Regions from separate parts of the Homo sapiens genome. Here all the other regions are linked to region 3. Evidence: fine-mapped expression QTL. A gene starts in region 3. Each other region holds a variant in brackets. All regions are shown on one strand. Distances are from middle to middle.

Region 1 (5,101 bases), 21 kb before region 3:
TAAACAGATATGCAAATGGACTGAATAGAAATCTCTTACACAGAAGAATTCCAAATACCTGATATAGACAGCCATCAAGGAGGTGGGGCTAACTCCCCACTCCTTTAAGTATGAGCTCTGCATGATGACTTCCTCCAAAAGCATACATACAATATAGACATGGGAAAAAAGTAACTTCACAGTGAAAAACCTGAAAACACTGCCTCAACCAAGTGATAAAAGTTAACATTAATGGTGATAACACATCTTGAGAGCATGAAGTGACTAGACTAGCACTTGCAAACCAAAAATAAAATTCAAAGATCTTTCCCACAACCACCTCTCCACCAGGGGACACCAAAGTTAACCTGGAAGACTGGTTCAGGCTATGATGGGAAAGAGGTGGTCAGACATGCCTCATTATGCCCTCCTCCCTTTTGGAATTCAGGAAAAGCCAATCAGCATTTAACATCAACACAACCTTAAATCTGATAAGAAACATTTACAATCTATTCTCTCTGAAGCCTGCTACCTGGAAGCTTCATCTCCATGATAAAACCTTGGCCTCCATAACCCCTTATCATAACCCAGACACTCCTTTCTATTGATAGTAAGTCTTTCAACAAACTGCCAATCAGAAAAATTTTAAATGTACCTATAACCTGGAAGCCCCACCCCCCAACCCTAATCCATTGGGTTGTCCCACCTTTCTGGACCGAACCAATATATATCTTAAATACACTTGATTGATGTCTCCTATCTCCCTAAAATGTATAGAACCAACCTGCACCCCAACGACTTTGGGCACATGTTCTCAGGGTCTCCTGAGGGCTGTGTCAAGGGCCATGGTCACTCATATTTGGCTCAGAATACATCTCTTCAAATATTTTACAGTCTTTGACTCTTTTTGTGGACACACTACACATCTGCTCTGCTTCCCCCAAACCCCTAAACCCAGGCTGATTATGAGAAAAACCCCAAGTAAACCACAATGGAGGACATTCTACACAATACCTGACCAATCCTCCTAACACTGTTCCAGGTCCTCAGAAGTAAAGTCTGAGAGACTGTCACAGCCAAGAAGAGCCTGACATGATGACTAAATGTCCTATGGGATCCTAGATAGGATCCTGGGAGAGAAAAAGGCAGAACTAAGGGAAACCAAATAAGATGTGAGCTTATTTAATAATATAGTAATATCCAGTCATTAAGTATGACAAGAAATGATGTAAGATGTTGGTCAGGAGTGGTGGCTCATGCCTGTAATCCCAGCACTTTGGGAGGCTGAGGCGGGCAGATCACCTGAGATCAGGAGTTCGAGACCAGCCTGGCCAACGTGGTGAAACCTCATCTCTACTAAAAATACAAAAATTAGCCGGGCATGATGGCAGGCGCCTGTAATACCAGCTACTCAGGAGGCTGAGGCAGGAGAATCGCTTGAACCTGGGAGGCGGAGGTTGCAGTGAGCCGAGATCACGCCACTGCACTCCAGCCTGGTTGAAAAAAAAAAAAACCTGGTCTGGAAAAAAAAAAAAAAAAAGATGTTAAACCTATCTGATACATGTTGATATGTTAAAAAGAGGGGAAACTAGGTTGCGTCTACATGGGAAATCTGCATTTTCTTCCCAATTTCTGTATGAATCTAAAACTAATTTAAAATAAAACCTCTATTTAAAAATTGTAATTTTTTCAGATATCTGCTAAATTATTTGTACTAAAAATTAGTAATTGACAGTAACTACTCCTACTTTTAAAAATAAGAGCATTCATGATACTGCAAAGTAAATTATACAGACTAATATATACTTTCAAAGAAATGCCCCTTTTACATGTTTTATGTTAAGATAACATATATGTGTAAACATGGTCATATCATTTTTCTTATGGTGTAGTTCACTCTCTAAGAAAGCTGGTCATCTTAGAACCAGGGAAAAAAATTCACATTTTGGAGACTATTTCAATTTACGGCTGGAAGTTTTCAAAGTATGACTTTGTGAAAAAAAAAAAAGTTCAAATTGATTCATTGTGACTGGATCACTTATTCTAATGAATGCTTGTCTTTATTTTGTTTCCCAGCATTCCTTTCAGCTACGATACAACAGAAGCAAATATTTGCCACTGGAAAAAATATTCAAAGACACTCTTAGGTTAATCTATAGCTGATGACAGTCAGTCTAGTCTACATAGCAAGCAGCTTCAAGATATGATTACTTAGCTAAGAGGGAAATGGGACGTGACTGCTGCCTCATTCCCA[C/T]GCCTCTCTGGACCTGATAATTTAGAGGAAGCTCACATTCGCAAGATAAAAATTTTCTTTTCTTTCTCAGTATTAAATATGCTGTCACAGTAGAAGAAAGCTTTACTGACTTCTTAAATGATGTGTTGAGACCGGAAACCTAAAATGATAGTTACTGAGAATACTGCTAATGCCCTAAGACCGGAACCCTAAAATGATAGTTACTGAGAATAGTGCTAATGCCCTAAGACCGGAACCCTAAAATGGTAGTTACTGAGAATACTGCTAATGCCCTAAGACCGGAACCCTAAAATGATAGTTACTGAGAATAGTGCTAATGCCCTAACACCGGAACCCTAAAATGATAGTTACTGAGAATACCGCTAATGCCGTAAGACCGGAAACCTAAAATGATAGTCACTGAGAATACTGCTAATGCCCTAAGACCAGAACCCTAAAATGATAGTTACTGAGAATAGTGCTAATGCCCTAAGACCGGAACCCTAAAATGATAGTCACTGAGAATACTGCTAATGCCCTAAGACTGGAACCCTAAAATGATAGTTACTGAGAATACCGCTAATGCCCTAAGACCGGAACCCTAAAATGATAGTTACTGAGAATACCGCTAATGCCCTAAGACCGGAACCCTAAAATGATAGTTACTGAGAATAGTGCTAATGCCCTAAGACCGGAACCCTAAAATGATAGTTACTGAGAATACCGCTAATGCCCTAAGACCGGAACCCTAAAATGATAGTTACTGAGAATACCGCTAATGCCCTAAGACCGGAACCCTAAAATGATAGTTACTGAGAATACCGCTAATGTCCTAAGACCGGAACCCTAAAATGATAGTCACTGAGAATAGTGCTAATGCCCTAAGACCGGAACCCTAAAATGATAGTTACTGAGAATAGTGCTAATGCCCTAAGACCGGAAACCTAAAATGATAGTTACTGAGAATACCGCTAATGCCCTAAGGTTTTAGTCACACCCTCACCTAGGCAGGAACCCAACCAAAAGGGGAGAACTGTGGAACAAACTACGGGAGGTCATTGTTTCGGTCACCACTCCCGCACTAGGCCACACTGAGCAGGCAAAATCAGAATGGAGACACTCACGCTGAATGACACACAACGAAGCTGAAACTCTAAGGAAGTAGATAGATCCCAAAAGAGCTCCCTTTTTCCCTGAAGAGATTCCAGTCTACCTGAGTCAGCATAAAGAAGTCCCCTCTGCTTTAATTCTTACCAAAACAAGTAACTTGAAGTAATCTGATATTAACAAATCAGTTGTTATTTTCTATTGCTCTATTTCCGCCTTACACAACACAGTGTTCTGCTATTGCCCAGAGGGCACTGAGACCAAATAAAACTTGAAAATGCCACACTGAAAGCAAATAAGTCCTAATAACTCAATTTACAACGACAACAAAGAGTGACACCAATGCCCAAAGTTTTGATCAATATCTCAAAATTGAGAGGCTGACCAAAAGGGAGGAATTCTTACATCAAACAACATTTGGGCTCTGGAAGCCTCCCGAGGAGTCCTTGTAAAGAGTCGCGGCCGGGCGCCGTGGCTCACGCCTGTAATCCCAGCACTTTGGGAGGCCGAGACGGGTGGCTCATGAGGTCAGGAAATCGAGACCATCATGGCTTACAAGGTGAAACCCAGTCTCTACTAAAAAAAAAAAATACAAAAAAATTAGCCGGGCTTGGTGGCGGCAGCCTGCAGTCCCAGCTACTCGGGAGGCCGGGACAGGAGAATGGCGTGAACCTGGGAGGCGGAGCTTGCTGTGAGCTGAGATCGCGCCACTGCACTCCAGCCTGGGCGACAGAGCGAGACTCCGCCTCAAAAAAGAAAAAAGAAGAAGAACAAGAAGAATCGCAACCTAATTTAGTATAGAAACAAACTGAAAATCTGACTTGGGAATGTATCATGGTAACAAATAGCGGCGGTTCAGCCAATCACATCAGCCGAGTGTCAGTCAATGGCCGGCAGCCAGCTGTTCAAAACAAGTTCCAAGAAGGCAAATCCGGGCTGTAACCAGGTCTGTAACCAATCCAGCCACCTCTATACCTCACTTCTGTTTTCTGTATGTCACTTTTTTCCTCTGGCTATAAATATAACCCGCACATGTTGTGTGGCAGATCATTCTGAACCATTTTTGGTCTGGACTGCTGCCTGATTCTAGAACCACAAAAAAAAGCCAATTAAGATCTGCAAACCCACATTTGTTGTAATTCTGTATTTTAACAGTTGTGCCCTACAAAAGACATTAAGCTGAAATTAATTAAAAATCATTTACGGTCATGATTAGGTCATAAAAAATTGTCAAACATAACAATTCTTCAAAAAAAGCTAAAAAGTATATTTTAAAAATATTGTTGATGGAAAAAAGAGTGCAAAAGTAGATAGGAAAATTATGTACAAAACTAAAAACAGAGGAGAAATTAAAAGTCAAATAATTGCATCAAACTGGAAACCTAGAAAAAATGGGTGATTTCCTAGTAAAAATACACATTAACAAAATGGGCCCTGAAATAAGGCAACTATGAATATACCAATTAGCATAGAAAAGCTAAGAAAGGTCCTTAAAGATCTCCCAGTGGAAAAAGGCCCCAGGACCATCTGGGTCCATAGCTTAGTGTAAGCTGACTTAACTAAATGTGATTTTACACTCGTGCATTGCATACATATGATGGTGGTCCCATGACATAAAAATGGAGCTGAAAAATTCCTTCCTAGCCATCTTGTCATAAGCTCATGGCTCAACGCATTACCTTTTCTCTGTTCTGATACCATGAAAGGAAAATAAATCTCAGGACCCCCAAATCACTAAGCCAAGGGAAAAGTCAAGCTGGGAGCTATGTCAGGCAAACCTGC
Region 2 (5,101 bases), 21 kb after region 3:
GAAGGAAACAGAGGAAGAGAACTAAGCAGACCTCTCAGGGAAGGGTGAAGGAACCATTAATCTCATCTTGTCTTTAATCTGTATCTGGGAAGATAAACCAGTAATCCACATTAGCAGTGTAGAGTCTTTGAAAAGGGCTGGTTTCTGTTTAGCCCTTAGTGAAGAAGCCTAATGGTGGCTGGGGAGGGAGGGGTACAGTGAGGCGCGTCTGACCTCCTCTCCTGCTACGGCCAGGAACTCAAGCTTCCAAGGTTTCTCTGGGGTTCCCTTGACCAAGGGGAGGGCTCCATTCAGTTGGTTGCAGGGCTTAGAATTTTATTTTATATTTTATTTTTTTGAGATGGCATCTCGCTCTGTCACCCAGGCTGGAGTGCAGTGGCATGATCTCGGTTCACTACAACTTCTGCCTCCTGGGTTCCAGCAATTCTCCTGCCTCAGCCTCCCGAGTAGCTGGGATTACAGATGGGTGCCACCACAAATGGCTCATCTTTGTATTTTTAGTAGAGACGGGGTTTCACCATGTTGGCCAGGCTGGTCTCAAACTCCTAACTCAGGTGATCCACCCGCCTCAGCTTCCCAAAGTACTGGGATTACAGGCAGGAGCCACCGCGCCCAGCCTAGAATTTTATTTTATTTTTCTTAAGGAAGGCCTACAATTATTATTATTATTTTTTTTTTTTTGAGATGGAGTTTCGCTCTTGTTTCCCAGGCTGGAGTGCAATGGCCTAATCTCAGCTCACCGCAACCTCCGCCTCCCTGGTTCAAGCAATTCGCCTGCCTCAGCCTCCCGAGTATCTGAGATTATAGGCATGCACCATCACGCCCGGCTAATTTTGTATTTTTAGTAGATATGGGGTTTCTCCATGTTGGTCAGGCTGGTCTCAAACTCCTGACCTCAGGCGATCCACCCACCCGGCCTCCCAAAGTACTGGGATTACGGGCGTGAGCCACCATGACCAACTGGCCTACAAATTTTAAGCAGAAGAAATAAAAGAAAATTCATATGGAAAACCACAGTGGAGAAACCGCAAAACTCCAAAGACAAAAGTCTTAAAAAACAGGCAGAGAGGCCAGACACGGTGGCTCATGCCTGTCATCCCAGCACTTTGGGAGGCCGAGGCGGGTGGATCATGAGGTCAGGAGTTCGACACCAGCCTCACCAACATAGTGAAACCCCATCTCTACTAAAAATACAAAAATTAGCTGGGCATGGTGGCGCATGCCTGCAATCCCAGCTACTCAGGAGGATGAGGCAAGAGAATCGCTTGAACCTGAGAGGGGGAGGTTGCAATGAGCTGAGATCATACCACTGCACTCCAGCCTGGGCAACAGAGCAAGACTCTATCTCAAAAAAACAAAAAATCCAAACAACAACAACAAAAATAAAACAGGCAGAGAACAGATAGCAACAGTTTCAGAAATTTATATGAAAAGCCAAAAGATTCAGACCAGCCAACACAGTACTGAAGGAGAAGAACAAAGGTGGGGAATTAACATCAACCTGTTGCCCAAATTATCTATTTTATTCTCTTATTTATTTATTTATTTTGTTTTGAGATGGAGTCTCACTCTGTCACCCAGGCTGGAGTGCAGTGGTGCGATCTCAGCTCACAGCAACCTCCCCTCCCAGGTTCAAGCAATTCTTCTGCCTCAGCCTCCTGAGTAGCTGGGATTACAGGTGCACCACCACACCTGGCTAATTTTTGTATTTTTAGTAGAGATGGGATTTCACCATTTTGGCAGGCTGCTCTCAAGCTTCCCACCTCAGGTGACCCGCCTGTCTAGGCCTCCCAAAGTGCTGGAATTACAGGCGTGAGCCACTGTGCCCAGTCCCAAATAATCTCTTTTAAATGCAAATCCCTTCACATCATTTTCCTGCCTAAAAATCCTCCAATGCCTCCCATGATCGTCAGGATACAGTTCAAACCCTAACAGAGCAAGCAGGCCTCCCACACTCCAGGTCTCTGCTGCCAGAAACAGACTCTTACATCCAGACGGCCTCATCTCAAAGGTGCTTCCCAGCCTACTCTGTTCCTACAGCTGAGTCAGTGTAGTGTCCAGTACATATTTATAGTAAAATTCGTATGGCACCCAGTTGTAACTGTTGGATGACTCCACCTTATTTTAATTTCTATTCACATCCACAGAACCCAGCAAAGGGCCTGGCACTGAGGAGACTAAACTATTTGTTGAATAAATTGGTCATTCAATGAATGAGTTGACCAAAACAATAATACGTATATATCAAGTTTCTACTATGTGCTGGACTCACACTTCCTAATTTCAAAACTTACTACAAAGCTACAGTAACCAAAACATTATAGTGCAGGCACAAGGATATACAGATAACAATGGAATAGAATTGAGACTCTAGAAATAACCCATACACCTATGGCCAACTGATTTTCAACAACAATGCCAAGA[C/A]CACAGTTTTTTTAAACAAATGGTGCTGGAACAATTACATATCCACATAAAAGAAAATGAAGCTGGATCCCTACCTTACAGCGCACACAAAAATTAACTCAAAATGGATCAAAGAACTAAATGTAAAAGCTTTAAACTATAAAACTCTTATAAGAAAACAGGAGTAAAACAATACCATTTCTCAGATATGATTCCAAAAGAGTGAGAAAATAAATAGACAAACTAGATTTCATCAAAATCAAAACTTCTATGCATCAAAAGACATCAACAAAGTAAAAAAGACAACCTACAGAATGACAGAAAATATTTGCAAATCATGTCTCTGATAAGGATCTAGCTTCCAGAATATATAAAGGACTCTCTTAACAATAAAAAAGACAACACAATTAAACAATGCGCAAAGGACTTCAATCTCCAAAGATATACAAATGGCCAAAAAGCACATGGAAAGATGTTTGATATCATGAATCATTAGGAAAATGCCAATCAGTGCTACAGTGGGTTACCACCTCCCACCCACTGGGATAGCTGTAATTAAAAAATGGAAAGTAAGTGTTGGGATGTGGAAAAGATGAAACCCTTGCCCACTGTTGGTGGAATGTAAAATGGTCCAGCTTCTGCAGATAACAGTATATTCGTTCCTCAAAAAGTTAAAACGGGCCGGGCGCAGTGGCTCTCGCCTGTAATCCCACACTTTGGGAGAAAGAGGCAGGCGGATCACGAGGTCAAGAGATCGAGACATCCTGGCCAACATGGTGAAACTACTCTACTAAATACAAAAATTAGCCGGGCGTGGTGGTGTGTGCCTGTAGTCCCAGCTACTCAGGAAGCTGAGGCAGGAGAATCGCTTGAACCCAGGAGGCGGATGGTACAGTGAGCCGAGATTGCGCCACTGCACTCCAGCCTGGTGATAAGAGCTAGACTCCGTCTCAAAACAAACAAACAAAAAAGTTAAACATGGGCAGGGCATGGTGGCTCACGCCTGTAATCTTAGCACTTTGGGAGGCCGAGGCGGGTGAACCACCTGAGGTCAGGAATGCAAGAGCAGCCTGGCCAACATGGTGAAACCCCATCTCTACTAGAAATACAAAAAACATTAGCTGGGCATGGTGGCAGGCACCTGTAATCCCAGCTTCTCAGGAGGCTGAGGCAGGAGAATCGCTTGAACCCGGGAGGCAGAGGTTGTATTGAGCCGAAATCGCGCCATTGCACTCCAGCCTGGGTGACAGTGTAAGACTGTGTCTCAAAAAATAAATAAATAAATATAGCTAAACGTGGAGTTACCCAGCAATACTTGTAGGTATCATACTCAAAAGAATAAAAAACAAGGACTCTCAAACGAATACTTGCATATGCTCCACAGCAGAACTATACACAAGAGCAGAAAGGTGGGACAACCCAAACACCCATCCATGTACAAACAAACCAACTGTGGTGCATACATCAGTGGAACATTTAGCCATGAAACAGGATGAAATACTAACACAAGCTACAAGGCGAAGGAGCGAGAAACATTTTCAGGAAATAAGCTCGGCACAAAAGGCCATCTGATTGCCGGGCGTGGTGGCTCACGCCTGTAATCCCAGCTACTTAGGAGGCTGAGGCAGAAGAATTCCTTGAATCCGGGAGACGGAGGTTGCAGTGAGCCGAGATCGCCCACTGCACTCCAGCCTGGGCGACAGAGTGAGACTCAATCTCAAAAAAAAAAAAAAAAAGTGGGCAGCTGGAATTGGCTGAAGGGAGATTCATTTTCCCTACATATTTCTATATTGTCTTAAATTTTTTTACAAGCATGTATTGATTTTCTAATTTACAAATAAAATGTTTCACACTATTATTGTTCAACTGTCCTTTCGAGACAATGCTTATAAAATACCACTTTTCCAGATCACCCCAACAGCAAACTGCAGAAGGACAACCAACAGCAGGATAACTCACCCGAATGTCCTCCCCTGGGAAGGGTCTTTGGCAGACTGTGCAGGTGGCAGAGGCAAAGGTTCCATGAGCTTCAACCAGCTTTGAGGCAGGGATGCCCGACACTGAAATTCAAGCCAAAGCGAAGTGTTGCTGCCGCCTCCGAGATGAGCACGCAAGGCCAAGAGCACAACTTCTGGGCTTGGCAGGACTCCTGGAAGGAGGCACAGCCCCTTGGGGTTGTGATGTCCTCAAGCCTGGTTTTCATGCCCGTATCACCTACATGCGCCATCAACCAGAATAAGGCAGGGGAGCAAAGGGGCACCTAGCTGGAGCCAAATCACGGTTAAAACAAAGCCTGTCAAAACTCAGTACGAAAAACCATTTGATAAAAGCTCAAATAAAATTATATCCAGCCGGGCACAGTGGCCCACACCTGTAATCCCAGCACTTTGGGAGGCCGAGGTGGGCAGATCATTTGAGGCTAGGAGTTCAAGACCGGCCTGGCCATCATGGTGAAACCGTACCTCTACTAAAAATACAAAAATTAGCCAGATGTGGTGGCAGGCACCTGTAGTGCCAGCTACTCGGGGAGGCTGAGACAGGAGAATCGCTTGAACCCGGGAGGTGGAAGTTGCAGTGAGCTGAGGTCGTGCCACCGCACTCCAGTTTGGGTAAGAGAGCGAGATTCTGTCTCAAAAAAAAAAAAAAAAATTACACCTAATACCAGGCTGGGTGCAGTGGCTCATGCCTGTAATCCCAG
Region 3 (5,101 bases):
CAACATGAGCTCATCAGGTCACAGGCAGCCGCAGCCTCCTGCCACACAGGAAGAAGATTCCTGACCCACAATTATCATTGCAAAGGAGTATTTTGTAGGTAAGTCCTCTGGAGCCCAAAACACCAGGCAGGGAAGACCCTGGCTGCCCTTGGCACCCACAGACACCAGCTCCCACTGGCTCACGTCCTTGCCCTGGACAAGAAGTAGGAGAGGATGAAGAAGGCCACAATTAGACCCACGGCCATGCCACATAGAAGCTTCCGGTTGTCTTGTCCGGACCTTGCCATTGTGGAAAAGCGCTTCACGCTCCCTGTAAGCAGGCTGGTCATGCTTGTGAAATCCGAGTCCTAAGGGAGGAATCCCAGCAAGATCACACAGAAGTGGTGATTTGACCACCCACCCGCACCAGTGCTGAAGGAGACACTGCAGGCTCTGCAGCAGGTAGTGCTAGGGCAGGGCACTGATACACGCACACCGTGGGCCCTTACCATGCCATCCAGGTACCGGTTCTGATCCTCTGCATCCCTATCGATGTCCAGGGCGAGCTGTTCAGCAGACAGAGAGGGCAGGGTTGGGCCAGAGCAGACACATAATACAGCACTCACCCTCCCCAGACCAGATAAACCCTGCCAACAACTCTGCCAGACACAGTGGGGCTGCAGCAGACAGAAAGGTCCAGGTGTCAGCTGGGGCCTCATGCAGGTGAGCACAGCCACGAATTGGATGAGGATGGAAAACTGCCTGAAACTCCTCTGGGCCCTCTGCCTTCCCTCTGATCCCCATTCCCCAAAGGCACCAGGTGGAGGTAAGAGGACAGACCACCACTGACCGATTTGAGCCTGGTGACTTTGGAGGCCAGGCTGTCAGCCATTCGCTTGTTCTCCCGGTCTAGAATCTCTTCCACAGCGCCCGGGCTCTGAGCTGAGAAAAGAGAGGGGCTGAAGGGTTGCATCCATCGGTGAGCACGGCCCCTGACCCCTCTCACTCCAACCACATCTGGGTGAGTCAGAAATCTAGGGGGCCCTAACCAAGGTTCCAGCAGGTGAATCTTGCACATGAGACAGGCTGCATAAAGGACGATGTGTGTAAGGGCCTGTCATGTGAACACATGTCCTGTGTACACATCAAGGTGGGGATGGGCAAGCACCCACAATGGGTTCGGTCCAACCAGCACCTTCTGAGACTGTGTAGCAAAAACTGGACCCAGCCCTGGGGTGCTAGTATGATGTGACACTTGCATCCAGGGAGGTCACCATCTGTGTATGTGGAGCCCATTCTTATAGAAAAAGAGTAAACTCTGCTAAGAGCATAGAAAAGACTTGGGAAAAGTACCCAGCAAGGCAGCAGAAAGGCTCCTGCAGAGACGACCTTTGAGCTAGGTCCTGAAGAGGTGGCAAGGAACCAGGACAGAACATTGGGAAGGCCCTTTACCGCACAGAAAATGGCTGAGCAAAGTTCCCAATTTCCCCGAGACGGGAGCTGAGGTCGACCAGGAGCGGGATCCTTGGTCTGCATCCCGCATGGGGCTTCCTGCAACACCCAGGGCAGAGTGCTCGCAGAGGCCTGGCCTGTGACAGGCTGGGCCAGGGGATAAGGAAGTTCTGTCACATCAGGTGCGTGAGAACCACCTCCTCCCTAGCTTCAGTGTCAGGAAGGGATGCCAGCGTCCTTCCAGCCACTTCATATTTATAAATTCCTTTAATCATCATAACACCTCACAGAGACAGGCATCAATATCCCACTTTGCAGACAAGAACACGGGCTCCAGGAGGGGAAATGGGGCCACCGAGGCCAAAGTAAGAGTCCTGCTTGGACACCAGCGGAGCACAGCCTCTACTCCTAGGGCCTGGCCTCGGGACCTGTCGAATGCCGACTCCCGCTCACCCCGAACCCATGCAGAACGATCTCACAGGGGGCGGCGGGGAGTGGGGAGACCCCGCTGCTGCGCGACCCCTCGCTGGAGCTGCTGGGCCGCCACGCGCGCCTTCGGTCCTAACGGCAGTGCCGGCCGAAACCCGGCCCTGCTCGGACCCGGAAGGATCCGAATCCGCCCCCCTGACAGGGTCCTCTCGGCCGAGGTCACCCCAGCTGGGCCAGAGGCAGGCGCACGCGGCTCTACAGGCAGCGGCGTCGGTTTCGGCCCGGCCCTGCCCCCAACGGCTCCGCTCTCCCGCGCTCACCCCGAGCCCAGTCCGCCATCGTGCCCTGCCCCGGCTCCTCGACGCGGACACCGACGCGGCCACAGCCGCCTCAGACGTGGCGCAGTCGCGGGGAAAGAGCTTCCGGCCCCGCCCCCAGCTAGCGATGGCCCCGCCTCCGCACCGACCACGCCCCTAGATAGCCCAGCCCCTTCCGCTTCGGGCTCGCTGACTTCCGGCTTAGGGCCGAGGGTGGGGAACTGCCGGGCGCGGAAGCGATGGGCATATCTGTGGCTTATTTTCAGCACTGTCGCGCAGACAGTGGCGCGATCTCAGCTCACTGCAGCCCCCGCCTGCCGGGCTCCCAAGGTGCTGGGATTACAGCAGCACCGCGGATGTGACGTTTGGTGTTCCTGTGAACGTGGGGCGGGGCGGGGCCGTTTGCTTGCTCAGTGCCTAGACGATGGTGGTGGAAAGACGCTTCTGTGGGTTAGGTCCTAACGGTTAGGAAGGATTCACAGGCGGGTCATGAGGAAGGAGCAGACCCCTCGGGCAGAAGCCCGCGAGGAGCACTGGGTGTGGTGGGGGCAGGGGTGCCTCCTCTGTCAAGTGGAGATCGGCGCCTCGCTCGTGCCTGCGAGTGCGCGCCGCGTCGAATACAGCCGTACAGAACGCACTACAGGAAAGTGAAGCCGGGAGAGAGACTGGGAGGCGGCGCGGGGACTGGGGGCCGTAGACGCCTTTGCTCCCGGGCACTTGTTAGAAGAGCGAGTGGATCGCGCTTCCTGTGCGTCACTGAATCCTCATGACGGCCACTGAAACGGACACGCAGGATCTTTGCTTTTCAAGAGGGAACTGAGTCCAGGCCAGACTGGGTTGCTCCCCTTTCTCTCGGCCCCTCCACCTTTGCAAGTGCTGCTCCTTCTGCCTGGAGTGGCTCCTCCAGTCTTTTCCCGGCTCACTTCCCACCGTCCGGTGTCAGCAAAAACAGCACTTCCTCACAGCCCGTTGCAGCCCAGCAGTCGCCTTTTGCTTCTTTTGAAGCACAGCCCTGTGACCGCCTCGTGTCCTTTTGTTTTTCCTTGTCCCCCTTCCCCTCTGGAACATAAGCTCCACAAAGGCAGGGACCTGGGAATCCCGTTCGCCTGCATTCCCCAGCAAACGCCTAACGAACCCAATGGCCCAGGACTGAAAATTCCTTTCCACTTCGGCTTTCCCCTCTACATCCCATCGGTTCTGTGGAGCTCGAGGGGCGTCACTGTGTGTGTGGCAGGGCACGGTGGGGGCTGAGATCGTTTCCTGTTGGAACTTCTGGCCCAAGAAGCGCGGGTCACAAGGAGAGGGGTCAGTTCGGTTCAGAGCGACTCAGCCCCTCGACTCGGGTCTTAAAACCTCCGAGCCGCCAGTTCTGCCTCAGGCCGCGCCCCCTTAAAGCGCCACCAGACGCTGCGCCCCGTTAAAGCGCCACCAGACGCCGCGCCCCGTCCCGGCCTCCCCCGCGCGCTGGCGCGGGGCTTTCTGGGCCAGGGCGGGGCCGGCGAACTGCGGCCCGGAACGGCTGAGGAAGGGCCCGTCCCGCCTTCCCCGGCGCGCCATGGAGCCCCGGGCGGTTGCAGAAGCCGTGGAGACGGGTGAGGAGGATGTGATTATGGAAGCTCTGCGGTCATACAACCAGGAGGTAAGCGGCCGCCTGAGGCCGGGGGGCGGGCACGGAGGGGGTGGGGCAGGGTCGTGCGCGGGTAGCAGGGAGGGCGTGGGTGAGGCAGAGGCTGTGTCAGCAAGCGTAGGGGACGCGGCGGGGTGCGGGGGGCAGGTCTGGGATGCAGTGTTGCGGGGAGAGTGGGGGTGCACCCGTTGGGTGGCAGGCGTGTAGGGATGGGGGCGAGTGCCGACCCTGCCATCCGTTCTGAGCAGTGGCTGCTGCCTGAGTTAGAGGCCAATAGGCCGCCCGCATCAGCGGACGCGGATCCTACCCCTCTGTGGATTTGAATTCACTAGTTCTCTCTGCAGCACTCCCAGAGCTTCACGTTTGATGATGCCCAACAGGAGGACCGGAAGGTGGGTGCTGGCCCAAGGGGTAAAGGGGCAGGGACGGGTGGCCCCAGGAAGAAGGGCCTGGTGGAGCCGCTCTTCTCCCTGCCCACAGAGACTGGCGGAGCTGCTGGTCTCCGTCCTGGAACAGGGCTTGCCACCCTCCCACCGTGTCATCTGGCTGCAGAGTGTCCGAATCCTGTCCCGGGACCGCAACTGCCTGGACCCGTTCACCAGCCGCCAGAGCCTGCAGGCACTAGCCTGCTATGCTGACATCTCTGTCTCTGAGGGGTCCGTCCCAGAGTCCGCAGACATGGATGTTGTACTGGAGTCCCTCAAGTGCCTGTGCAACCTCGTGCTCAGCAGCCCTGTGGCACAGATGCTGGCAGCAGAGGCCCGCCTAGTGGTGAAGCTCACAGAGCGTGTGGGGCTGTACCGTGAGAGGAGCTTCCCCCACGATGTCCAGTTCTTTGACTTGCGGCTCCTCTTCCTGCTAACGGCACTCCGCACCGATGTGCGCCAGCAGCTGTTTCAGGAGCTGAAAGGAGTGCGCCTGCTAACTGACACACTGGAGCTGACGCTGGGGGTGACTCCTGAAGGGAACCCCCCACCCACGCTCCTTCCTTCCCAAGAGACTGAGCGGGCCATGGAGATCCTCAAAGTGCTCTTCAACATCACCCTGGACTCCATCAAGGGGGAGGTGGACGAGGTGAGCACTGACCTTAACCCATGGATGGGTCTCAACTCAGCTCCAACATTTCCTGGACCTGCTTCCTACTGGGTACCTTCAGGTTTCTGGGTGTCAGACATGGAGAGGACAGGACCTCCCAGCCTGTTGGGACAAGGCCAAGGAGATGCCAGTTCTGGGCTGGGACCTCAGGAAAGGCTTCTGAGGGAAGTAGAGGCCCCTTCTGGCTCTTGCTGCCTGGCAG
Region 4 (5,101 bases), 31 kb after region 3:
AACACGGCAAGGTGAGAAAGAGTGGGCGAGGTGTCGACAACGAACACGCAAGAAGTGCTTGTCCTTGCCCAAAATACCTCGAAAAGAAGAAACTGGGAGCTGCTGCCCTCGGCTGCCTCCGGAATGCCCTGGGCACCTCGGGTCTGGGAGGCCTCTGCAAGGGGCGCGCCGGGTCCAAGGGCTCACCGCGGGCCCCATGGCTGCCTCTCAGCCCCGCACTCACATCGTCCCTGCCGCCAAGCACCAGCCGACAGCCGCAGGCCTGAAACGGCCCCACGCCTCCCCCGGCCTCGACCCGTTCAACTACCCGGCCCCACAGCCGGAGGGCTGCCGCGGCGCGCCAACCCCAGAACGCCATGTTCCGCGCAGTCCAAGGAGTCCTCCGGACTCGCCCCGCCCCCGGCGCCCCGGCCCCGCCTCCGCCTCCCACCCCCGCCCCCGGCGCCCCAGCCCCGCCTCCGCCTACCGCCCCCGCCCCCGGCGCCCCGGTCCCGCCTCCGCGCCCCGCCCCCGCCTCCTTGCCGACGCCTCCGGCGCGCCCAGGTAGACGTAGAGGCGAGTAGAGGAAGTTCCCTAGTCTGGTGTCTCATCTCTCGCCCCGGAGGTCAAACCTGGAGCCAGCATTTCTGTACCCTGCGCTCACACCTTTTTCAACCCGGATGGCGGTGATAGTTAATACTTTCTGAGCGCTTTTACTATGGTCAGGCATTATATTTACACCTAATCCTCGCAAAACACTACTGGGAAGATCCTCATTTGACAGGAGCAATTCCGGGTCACAAAGGCTGACACCACAAAGCTAGTCCGTAGCGGGTTCGACCACAGGCGCCCACACTCTTTGACGCCTCAATGGCACAGCCAAGTGCGCGGGAAGTGGGCTGCAAACGCCGGAGAGTTTTGTCCGGAGCGCAGAGACGCGCTGTAACCGAGCAACCAGCGGGGCCCGCCCCCGGCCTGCTACGGCGCTCCCAGCCTGCCCCGCGCCGCTCGGCGCCGGAAGTGAGTGAGCATTTCCGGCAGCCATCCCCGCGGTGCTGACATCCCGGTTGTTCTTCTGTGCCGGGGGTCTTCCTGCTGTCATGAAGGACGTACCGGGCTTCCTACAGCAGAGCCAGAACTCCGGGCCCGGGCAGCCCGCTGTGTGGCACCGTCTGGAGGAGCTCTACACGAAGAAGTGAGCGCCGAGCAGACGGGCCCTGGGCCCCGGCGATAGAGGGAGACGGAGGGGGCAGGCGGGCGGAGGAGCGGACCCTTGATGGGCTGAGGGCGCCCAGACCCAAGTTGGGGGGAAACGGGGACGTGTAGCGACCGGCTGTGCCGGCAAGGTTTGCTGAGGAACCTTGAGTGGCAGGGTCGAGGAATAAGAGGGATGACAGACCACGAGGGCCAAGAGCTGTAGCCAGGATGTTTCGGTCTGAGATTCACTGCTTCCTTAACGGGGGACTGAGACTGAGGCTTCTGAACTCCTACCTCGGGTCTTACTAAAACGGTTCAGGAGTAGCCTTTGATTTTAGCTCTTGATTCCATCTAACAAGCAAACACACTTTCAGGGCCACCACCCACTTTGGGAAACATGTTGGTGATTCGTGCTTAGCCTTGTCATAGTGTAACTGTATCTACAGTTATCTTTCTCATGGTCTGGAGTTGATAAACCAGAGGCTAGTACAGCTTTGCTGTTTTCCCTATTCATTCTGCAGCTGGTTGCACGGGGTGCAACCACTTCCGCCGTCCCATTGTCTTTACCTTCCATTGTATTTCTCATGGGCTTTCTGCCCCTAGAAAGATCTTAAAGTTTAGGTTTGTTTAGAAACAGGATGAATTGCAGAGCAATTAAATTCTTGCTAAGCACTAACCTCCTTTTAATATGAGTAGAATAAATTGCTGGCATTGGGCTGGAGCTATTCCATAGAAAATACATCTCCTGTAGTAACCTCCCTGTTAACCCTAGCATTTAATATAATACCTTTCACATAGATGTTCCATACATGTTTTGATGATGTTTAGCATTCAGCAGCCTTCTGCTATTAGCAGTTTTTGAGAGCAAATTAATGTTTGGCAAATAATGGTTTGTGTTGGATAGCACTTGGTAATTTTCAAAGCATTTTATCTGCGTTATTAAATATTAGCCTTTGGGTTTTGGATGAAGCGCTATGTCACTGTCCCTGAGGTTTTAAATATTAGCTTATTTAATCCTTTATTCATCCTTTTCACAGAGGAGGAAACTGAAGCTCATTTTAATTGCCTTCCCTGAGATACTCAGCTAATAGGTAGAAGAGCCAGCATCTCAAGTTAGATATGTATGATTCCAAAGTTCTCGTTTCCAGTGAAACCTCACAATAACCCTTTGAGTTAATCTAGATTAATGTTCTCCATTTCATACCTGGGAAAACTGAGTCTTAGAGAAGTTAAGTGATCTCAAAGTGACATAGCCATTCAATAGCAGAGCCAGGAAAAGAACTCAGGTTTATCACATCTGCTTTAGCATTCTTTCTGCTACACCGTAGAGACTGGTTAGTATGGATTTAGTATCCCTTATCAGAAATGCATTGGGGCGGCCGGGCGCAGTGGCTCATGCCTGTAATCCCTGCTACTCGGGAGGCTGAGGCAGGAGAATCACTTGATCCTGGGAGGCAGAGGTTGCAGTGAGCCGAGATGGCGCCACTGCACTACAGCCTGGGCAACAGAGTCAGACTCTGTCTCAAAAAAGAAAGAAAGAAATGCATTGGGGCAAAAGTTTTTTTGGATTTAGTATTTTTTCAAATTTTGAAATATTTGCGATATATACTTACCCGTTCAG[T/C]ATCCATAAATCAAAAATCTGAAATCTGAGATGCTCCAGTGGTCATTTCCTTTGAGCCCTATGTTGGTGCTCAAAAAGTTTTGGATTTTGGAGCATTTTGAATTTTGGAGTTTTGGAGTTTTGGATTAGAGATACCCAACCTGTATTTGTGACTTGATAGAATCATCAAGGCTGGAGGTGTCTGTGACTGGATATTAGGTTAGAGGTCTTAAGGGCTGTATGTTTTTCAGGTTGTGGCATCAGCTGACACTTCAGGTGCTTGATTTTGTGCAGGATCCGTGCTTTGCCCAAGGAGATGGTCTCATTAAGGTAAATAATTTGCTATACCAGATTAGATTATATGAATGTGCTCAAGGACTTTTGAAAATAAGATAGGCTTTATGCTAATAATAATAATAAGCTCCAATATTCAGCAGTCACTTTACGTCAGGTACTGGTCTGAGCGCTTCACATATCCTTCATGACAACGCTGGTCAGTAGATACTACTATCTCACTTTTTTGATGTAGAAGCAAACATAAGACTTTAAGTAACTTACCATAGATCACTGCTGATAAGTGGCAGAAGAGGATTCAAACACTGACATTCTGGCTTTTTTTGAAATTCTAGCATAAAGTATTATCTTACAACATGCCTAAGTATCTTAGTTCATAGGCTTCTTTTTAGTACTCTAGTTTTAGAAACAAAGTTCAAACCCAGTTAGAGGGTGGAGTAAGGTATGAGGAAGATTACTATCTGTGGGAATCTTAGATAACTTCCATCACTCCCCTTCTTTAAGCCGCACTGCTTGCTTGCCCAGACACTTCTGTCCTGGGTAGTGTGGAAAATAAAACACCTTTTGTACTTCGGTTGAGGGTAGGTGGATTGGAGGGAGAGTCCTGTATAGTGTCATGCTGCCTCTGTAATAGAGGACTTTTAGAATTTTTTCAGCAGTAGACAAATACGCACCTTCTTTCCCAGCCTTCCCCAGATCCCCTGACACATCCCCACGAATTTGCTCACTGGTAGCCTCCTCTTTGAAGTTTTTCCTGACATCTTACTCTATGATGGCTTTCTCTGATTCTGAATGAATCAGAGATTCATACCAGCATTGCAACTGATAGCTTATAATTACATTTTGAGTCATTTCTCCTGAATACATTACTTTTATATGCTCGCAATAGAGCTTACCACCTTGCTACCCCACCACCTGGGCTTGTAAGATTTTCTTGTGGTTTATAGCCATCAATTTGACATTTTACTATTCAGAGGAACTTACAATCATCTGTAAGCCTGGAGATTTTGCTGAACATTCAGTCTTCTGGATTATGTGGGAAAATGATAAATGAGACCTGCTTTTTTTTTTTTTTTTTTTTTTTTTTTGACGGAGTTTCGCTCTTGTTGCCCGGGCTGGAGTGCAATGGTGCGATCTTGGCTCACTGCAACTTCCACCTCCCGAGTTCAAGCGATTCTTCTGCCTCAGCGTCCCAAGTAGCTGGGATTACAGGTGCCCACCACCACAGCCAGCTGATTTTTGTATTTCTTAGTAGAGATGGGGTTTCACCAGTGTTGGCCAGGCTGGTCTCAGACTCCTGACCTCAGGTGATCTGCCTGCCTTGGCCTCCCAGAGTGCTGGGATTATAGGCAGGAGCCACTGTGCCTGGCCTGAGACCTGTCTTAATACTTGTTCCCTAAGGTTCTAAATCATCACGATAGATGATTCATAATTGTTTATCTCTGTCCTTTGGTTTCTTATCTTTAAATCACTTTTCTACACATGACAAAATATTTCCTCAACCTCATGGTAAGGTGATGTTTATTTAGGTTGGCAGATCTGAGTTTACTTTTCCCATAGACAGAATAAACCTTTAAAATTTGTTGGGATCCAGCTAGCATAAGTGTAAAATGGATAGTATTTTTGAATTTATAGTCACCAGAAGTAATTTTGACTTTCTGGACTTAGTGGGCTTCTTTTTTAAGGTAATTTTTTAGATTAATACATGTCAGGAAAGTTCAAACATTTCCTTCTAATAAGGAAGATATCTTTGAAATAGTCTTTTGTAATAAAAATGCCATTTTATTTATTTATTATTATTATTTTTTGAGACGGAGTTTCATTCTTATCACCCAGGCTGGAGTGCAATGGCACAGTCTCAGCTCACTACATCCTCCTCCTCCCGGGTTCCAGTGATTCTCCTGCCACAGCCTCCAGAGTAGCTGGGATTACAGGCACCCGCCACCACGCCTGGATAATTTTTGTATTTTTAGTAGAGACAGGGTTTCATCATGTTGACCAGGCTGGTCTCAAACTCCTAACCTCAGGCGA
Region 5 (5,101 bases), 75 kb before region 3:
CTGTTCTCAAGTCAAAGCTGGGCCTGTTGATGCCACCGGGAAGCAGAAGGTGGGCCTGGAGAGTTTGACTTGAGGAAGTTTTGGGCCTACATTGGCCGCCATGAGCTGGACAGGAACTGGGCCAAAAAAGGCTGTTGTGAGGCAGCAGTTGTGCCTGTAGACCCAGCCAAGAGGAAGAGGTGGGTCTGGAGAAGCCCCCATGAGGCAGAGGTTGGGCCTGTAGACGCTGACAGGAGGCAGGAGCTGGGCCTGGACAGGTCAACTTGAGGAGATTTTGGGCCTTCATAGGCCACCAGGAGGCAGTAGTTGGGACTAGAGAGTCTGACTTGAGTAAGTTTTGGGCCCGGAGATGACGTCCTGGGACAGGAGTTGGGCGTGGAGAGGCCACCGTGAGGCATAAGCTGGATGTAGAGAGGCCAGTGTGAGGCAAGACCTGGGCCTGTCTAGGCTGCTGGGAGACAGGCAGGAATCTGGCCAGGGAAGGTTGCCATGAGACAAAAGTTGGGCCTGGAAAGGCCCTTGTGAAGCATGAGCTTGGCCTAAAGAGGCCACTGGGTGGCAGGAGCTGGGTGTGTAGAAGCTGCTGAAAGGTTGGGAGCTTGGCTTGGGGGGTCCACAGTGAGGTAGATGCTGGGCGTGAAGAATCTGCTGTGAGGCAGACGTTGGGACTGTAGAGGCTGACGGGAGGCAGAGGCTGGGCCTGGAGGGGCCACCAAGATGCAGGAGCTGGGCCTGGAGAGGCTGCAAAGAAGCATGACCTGGGCCTGGTGAGGTCGACTTGAGAAAGTTCAGGGCCTGGAGAGAAGGCTGGGAGGCAGGAGCTGGGTCTAAAGAGGCCATTGTAACGATGGAGCTGTGCCTGTGGAGGCTGTTGTGAGGCAGTAGCCTCATCTGTGGAGGCTGCCGTGACGTAGGGTATGGGCCTAAATAGGCCATTGTGAGTCATGATCTTGGTCTGTAGAGGCTGACTGGAGAAAGTTCTGGGCCTGGAGAGGCTGCCGGGAGGTAGGAGCTGGGCCAAAAGATGTAAGCACATTTGCATTTATTAGGCACTTTATTTCCATTATTACACTGTAATATATAATAAAATAATCATAGAACTCACCATAATGTAGAATCAGTGGGCGTGTTAAGCTTGTTTTCCTGCAACTGGATGGTCCCACCTGAGCGTGATGGGAGAAAGTAACAGATCAATAGGTATTAGATTCTCATAAGGACGGCGCAACCTTGATCCCTCACATGCACGGTTCACAACAGGGTGCGTTCTCCTATGAGAATCTAACGCTGCTGCTCATCTGAGAAGGTGGAGCTCAGGCGGGAATGTGAGCAAAGGGGAGTGGCTGTAAATACAGACGAAGCTTCCCTCACTCCCTCACTCGACACCGCTCACCTCCTGCTGTGTGGCTCCTTGCGGCTCCATGGCTCAGGGGTTGGGGACCCCTGCTCAAGTGCATCCAAAGCGACCCTTCCCACACCAGTCTTCACAGTGGTCAAGGGCAGCAACCACTTAGCTCCCAAGGCATGTGCCTCAGCTGGCATTTCGTCACAATCAACAGTAAGTGGTAGCTTGAGTCACTGTGAGGTCACCTACTGGAAATCACCAGCATCCCATTTCCCACTGGCAAAGAGCTCAGCGCTGCCCCCTGGGAAACCAAACCTATGCCCAAATCCCATCTGTGTGGGTGTATCTCCTGGGACCCTTCCTAACATATTAGTCAGAGTCCAATCAGGAAGCATAAACCACTCAAAAGTTTAAAGTGGTAAAATTTAATACAGAGAATTATTCATTATAACAGGTGAACAGCATAATGAGAGATTGGCTAGCACAAAGTAAAGAGAACTCTAGAGAATATAGGACTAGCCCAGGCCAGGCATGGTGGCTCAGGCCTGAAATTCCAGCAATTTGAGAAGCTAATGCAGGAGGATTGCTTAAGGCCAGGAGCTAGAGACCGGTCTGGACAACAGAGTGAGACCCTGTCTCTATCCAAAAGAAGAAAAAAGTTAGCTGGTGGTGGTAGTGCACACTTGCAGTCCCAGCTACTCGGAATGCGGAAGTTTGAGCCTGGGAGGTCAAGGCTGCAGTGAGGCATGATTATGCCACTACAGTCCAGCCTGGTGACAGAGCAAGACCCTGTCTCAAAGAACAAAACAACAACAACCATTTACAGACAGAAAAGAAATAGAGCTAATAAGCTGAGGAAAGATGTTGAAATGTGACAAGTAAAGTAACATGAGGTCTTTTGTCTATTTAAAATAATCAAACAAAAAATGACTTACTAAATTATAATACCCTGTGCTGGCAAAGGTGCAGTGAAATGGGCACTTTCTTATACTATGAGAGGTGGTTAAATTGTGTATAAGCCTTCCCGGGTAAAGCCTGTCAATTTTTTAAAATAATGGAGACAGGGTCTCACCATACTGCCATACTGCCTCCTCCAACTCTTGGCCTCAAGCAATCCTCCTCTCTTAGCCTCCCAAAGTGCTAAGATTATAGCTGGGAGGCACCCAAAACCCTGTCAATTTACATCAAGGGTAAGGAGAATGTCCATTCACCATGACTCACAGTAATCTTACTTCTGGGGAGACAATTCAGTCTAAACAAAAGGTCATCTGTACACACACAGTAAAAATCTGGGAGTAACTGAAGACAGAGTTGGTAAGTGAAATAAGAAACAGTTATAAGAAATTAAACTATGGTATCAATAGGCACCTGGTACAAAAGGTCAGTTGATGTTGGCTGCTACTTTTTTGTTGTTTTGAGACAGGGTCTCACTCTGTCACCCAGGCTGGAGTGCAGAGGCCTGATCATGACTCACTGCAGTCTCAGCCTCCCTGGGCTCAAGTGATCCTCCCACCTCAGCCTCCCAAGTAGCTGGGACTACAGGAACATGCCACCACACTAGGCTAATTCATGTATTTTTCTGTAGGGATGGTGACTCCCCCTTTGTTTCCAAGGCCTATCGCAAACTCTTGGCCTCGAGCCATCCTCCTGCCTCAGCCTCCCAAAGTGTTGCGATTACCAGTGTGAGCCACCACA[C/G]CTGGCCAGCTGCTACTTTTATCAATATTATTCTTATTCCACTCAATTAAAAATTATTATTTTCAAGGCTATGCAACAGTATGTATCCTACAGCGTAATTGTAAAAACATATACAGTCGTCGTCCCTCAGTATACAGAATTAGTTCCAGCCCCCCATCTCTGCATATACCAAAATCCATGCTTACTCACGTTTCGCTGTCACCCCTCTGGAATCCACGTATACGAAAATTCCAAATATTAGTTGGGCATAGTGGCAAGCACCTGTAGTCTCAGCCACGTGGGAGGTTGAGGTGGGAGGATCGCTTCAGCCTGGAAGGTTGAGGCTGCAGTCAGCTGCGATAGCACTACTACACTCCAGCCTTGGACAACAGAGGGAGACCCTGTCTCAGAACAAAAAAAAATAAAAAATAAAAAATAAAACAGGTTAGAAACTGTGATGAGGTCTGCTGGGCAAAATTCCATATAAGCAAAGTATAAATTAATAAAGCAAATCGTGATAAATTAGTACGATTGACTTTCTGGAGTTTCTGACAATAAAAGTAAGGAAAATGCAGAACACAAAGACAGAGAGTAAAAAGAGAAATTAGGAAAGCATTCTACATGTTGAATAGGAAGACACTGGCCATGTTCGTGCAGCGGCAGTATGTCGTGACATGACATACCTTGGAGAGAAGTTAACAGATGAGGAAGTTGATAAAAATCATCAGAGAAGCAAAATACTGGTAGGGACACTCAAGTAAACCATGAAATTTCCATAACTTATGTCAGCAAAGTGGGAATATTGTACAGTGTGTGTTGAAGTTCCTATACAACATTGTTTATCTGCCTTTTGTTTGTTTGTAAGGAATGTACATACTAAAAGTTCTTCTTGCTGTCAAAAGAATATGTGTGAATAAGTCATTTTAACTTATTCTTCTGTTTTTCTTTTATCTTCCTGCCATCATCCCACAGCCTTACTTTAGAAATTTTTTTTTTAGAAAATTGAACAAGTGCTCCTTGTGGTGGCACATGCCTCGAGGATGGGAGGCAGGGGTGGAAGGGTCACTTGAGGCCATTAGTTTGACACCAGCCTGGCCAACAAAGTGAGACCCCGTGTCTACAAAACAATTTAAAAATTAGCCAAGTATCATCATGTATACCTACAGTCCCAGCTACCTGAACTTACTGAGAATGTTCAGGGCCTGGAGAGAAGGCTGGGAGGCAGGAGCTGGGTCTAAAGAGGCCATTGTAACGATGGAGCTGTGCCTGTGGAGGCTGTTGTGAGGCAGTAGCCTCATCTGCGGAGGCTGCCGTGACGTAGGGTATGGGCCTAAATAGGCCATTGTGAGTCATGAGCTTGGTCTGTAGAGGCTGACTGGAGAAAGTTCTGGGCCTGGAGAGGCTGCCGGGAGGTAGGAGCTGGGCCAAAAGATGTAAGCACATTTGCATTTATTAGGCACTTTATTTCCATTATTACACTGTGATATATAATAAAATAATTATAGAACTCACCATAATGTAGAATCAGTGGGCGTGTTAAGCTTGTTTTCCTGCAACTGGATGTTCCCACCTGAGCGTGATGGGAGAAAGTGACAGATCAATAGGTATTAGACTCTCATAAGGACAGCGCAACCTAGATCCCTCACATGCACGGTTCACAACAGGGTGCGTTCTCCTATGAGCATCTAATGCTGCTGCTCATCTGAGAAGGTGGAGCTCAGGCGGGAATGTGAGCAAAGGGGAGTGGCTGTAAATACAGACGAAGCTTCCCTCACTCCCTCACTCGACACCACTCACCTCCTGCTGTGTGGCTCCTTGCGGCTCCATGGCTCAGGGGTTGGGGACCCCTGCTCAAGTGCATCCAAAACGACCCTTCCCACACCAGTCTTCACAGTGGTCAAGGGCAGCAACCACTTAGCTCCCAAGGCATGTGCCTCAGCTGGCATTTCGTCACAATCAACAGTAAGTGGTAGCTTGAGTCACTGTGAGGTCACCTACTGGAAATCACCAGCATCCCATTTCCCACTGGCAAAGAGCTCAGCACTGCCCCCTGGGAAACCAAACCTATGCCCAAATCCCATCTGT

What was found. PIP is the estimated chance that this variant, and not a neighbour inherited with it, causes the effect.
Region 1: its variant is fine-mapped to the expression of BET1L in whole blood (TOPMed, PIP above 0.99).
Region 2: its variant is fine-mapped to the expression of BET1L in whole blood (INTERVAL, PIP above 0.99).
Region 4: its variant is fine-mapped to the expression of BET1L in whole blood (TOPMed, PIP above 0.99).
Region 5: its variant is fine-mapped to the expression of BET1L in esophagus mucosa (GTEx, PIP 0.97).

Annotation. Positions count from the first base shown.
Region 1 is chr11:183,847-188,947 of GRCh38, forward strand. It overlaps a transcript of SCGB1C1 not described here. Among named protein-coding and RNA genes, the nearest start is that of SCGB1C1, 6.7 kb to the right of the region's middle. The variant C/T (reference allele first, on the strand shown) is at 2,234.
Region 2 is chr11:226,090-231,190 of GRCh38, forward strand. SIRT3 (sirtuin 3) reads right to left here. Exons shown (of 7, transcript NM_012239.6): 4 at 4,363-4,463. Among named protein-coding and RNA genes, the nearest start is that of SIRT3, 7.7 kb to the right of the region's middle. The variant C/A (reference allele first, on the strand shown) is at 2,425.
Region 3 is chr11:205,123-210,223 of GRCh38, forward strand. BET1L (Bet1 golgi vesicular membrane trafficking protein like) reads right to left here and starts at 2,277. Exons shown (of 4, transcript NM_001098787.2): 1 at 2,181-2,277; 2 at 830-921; 3 at 489-545; 4 at 1-347. The coding sequence starts at 2,199. The coding sequence ends at 180. It overlaps RIC8A (RIC8 guanine nucleotide exchange factor A), which reads left to right and starts at 2,586. Exons shown (of 10, transcript NM_001286134.2): 1 at 2,586-3,816; 2 at 4,149-4,196; 3 at 4,285-4,878. The coding sequence starts at 3,733. MIR6743 (microRNA 6743) reads left to right here and starts at 4,214; the gene lies at 4,214-4,284. RefSeq lists enhancers at 693-1,192, 1,503-2,004, 2,551-3,172, 3,028-3,197, 3,173-3,792 and 1 more and silencers at 1,949-2,008, 2,119-2,238, 3,300-3,498, 3,499-3,788, 3,859-3,968.
Region 4 is chr11:235,971-241,071 of GRCh38, forward strand. It overlaps SIRT3 (sirtuin 3), which reads right to left and starts at 372. Exons shown (of 7, transcript NM_012239.6): 1 at 78-372. The coding sequence starts at 358. PSMD13 (proteasome 26S subunit, non-ATPase 13) reads left to right here and starts at 1,006. Exons shown (of 13, transcript NM_002817.4): 1 at 1,006-1,174; 2 at 3,028-3,106. The coding sequence starts at 1,080. RefSeq lists a silencer at 438-517 and enhancers at 668-857, 1,018-1,257. The variant T/C (reference allele first, on the strand shown) is at 2,798.
Region 5 is chr11:130,362-135,462 of GRCh38, forward strand. LINC01001 (long intergenic non-protein coding RNA 1001) reads right to left here. Exons shown (of 7, transcript NR_146389.1): 3 at 4,529-4,586; 4 at 4,203-4,435; 5 at 3,227-3,417; 6 at 1,106-1,163; 7 at 1-1,012. Among named protein-coding and RNA genes, the nearest start is that of LINC01001, 6.2 kb to the right of the region's middle. The variant C/G (reference allele first, on the strand shown) is at 3,038.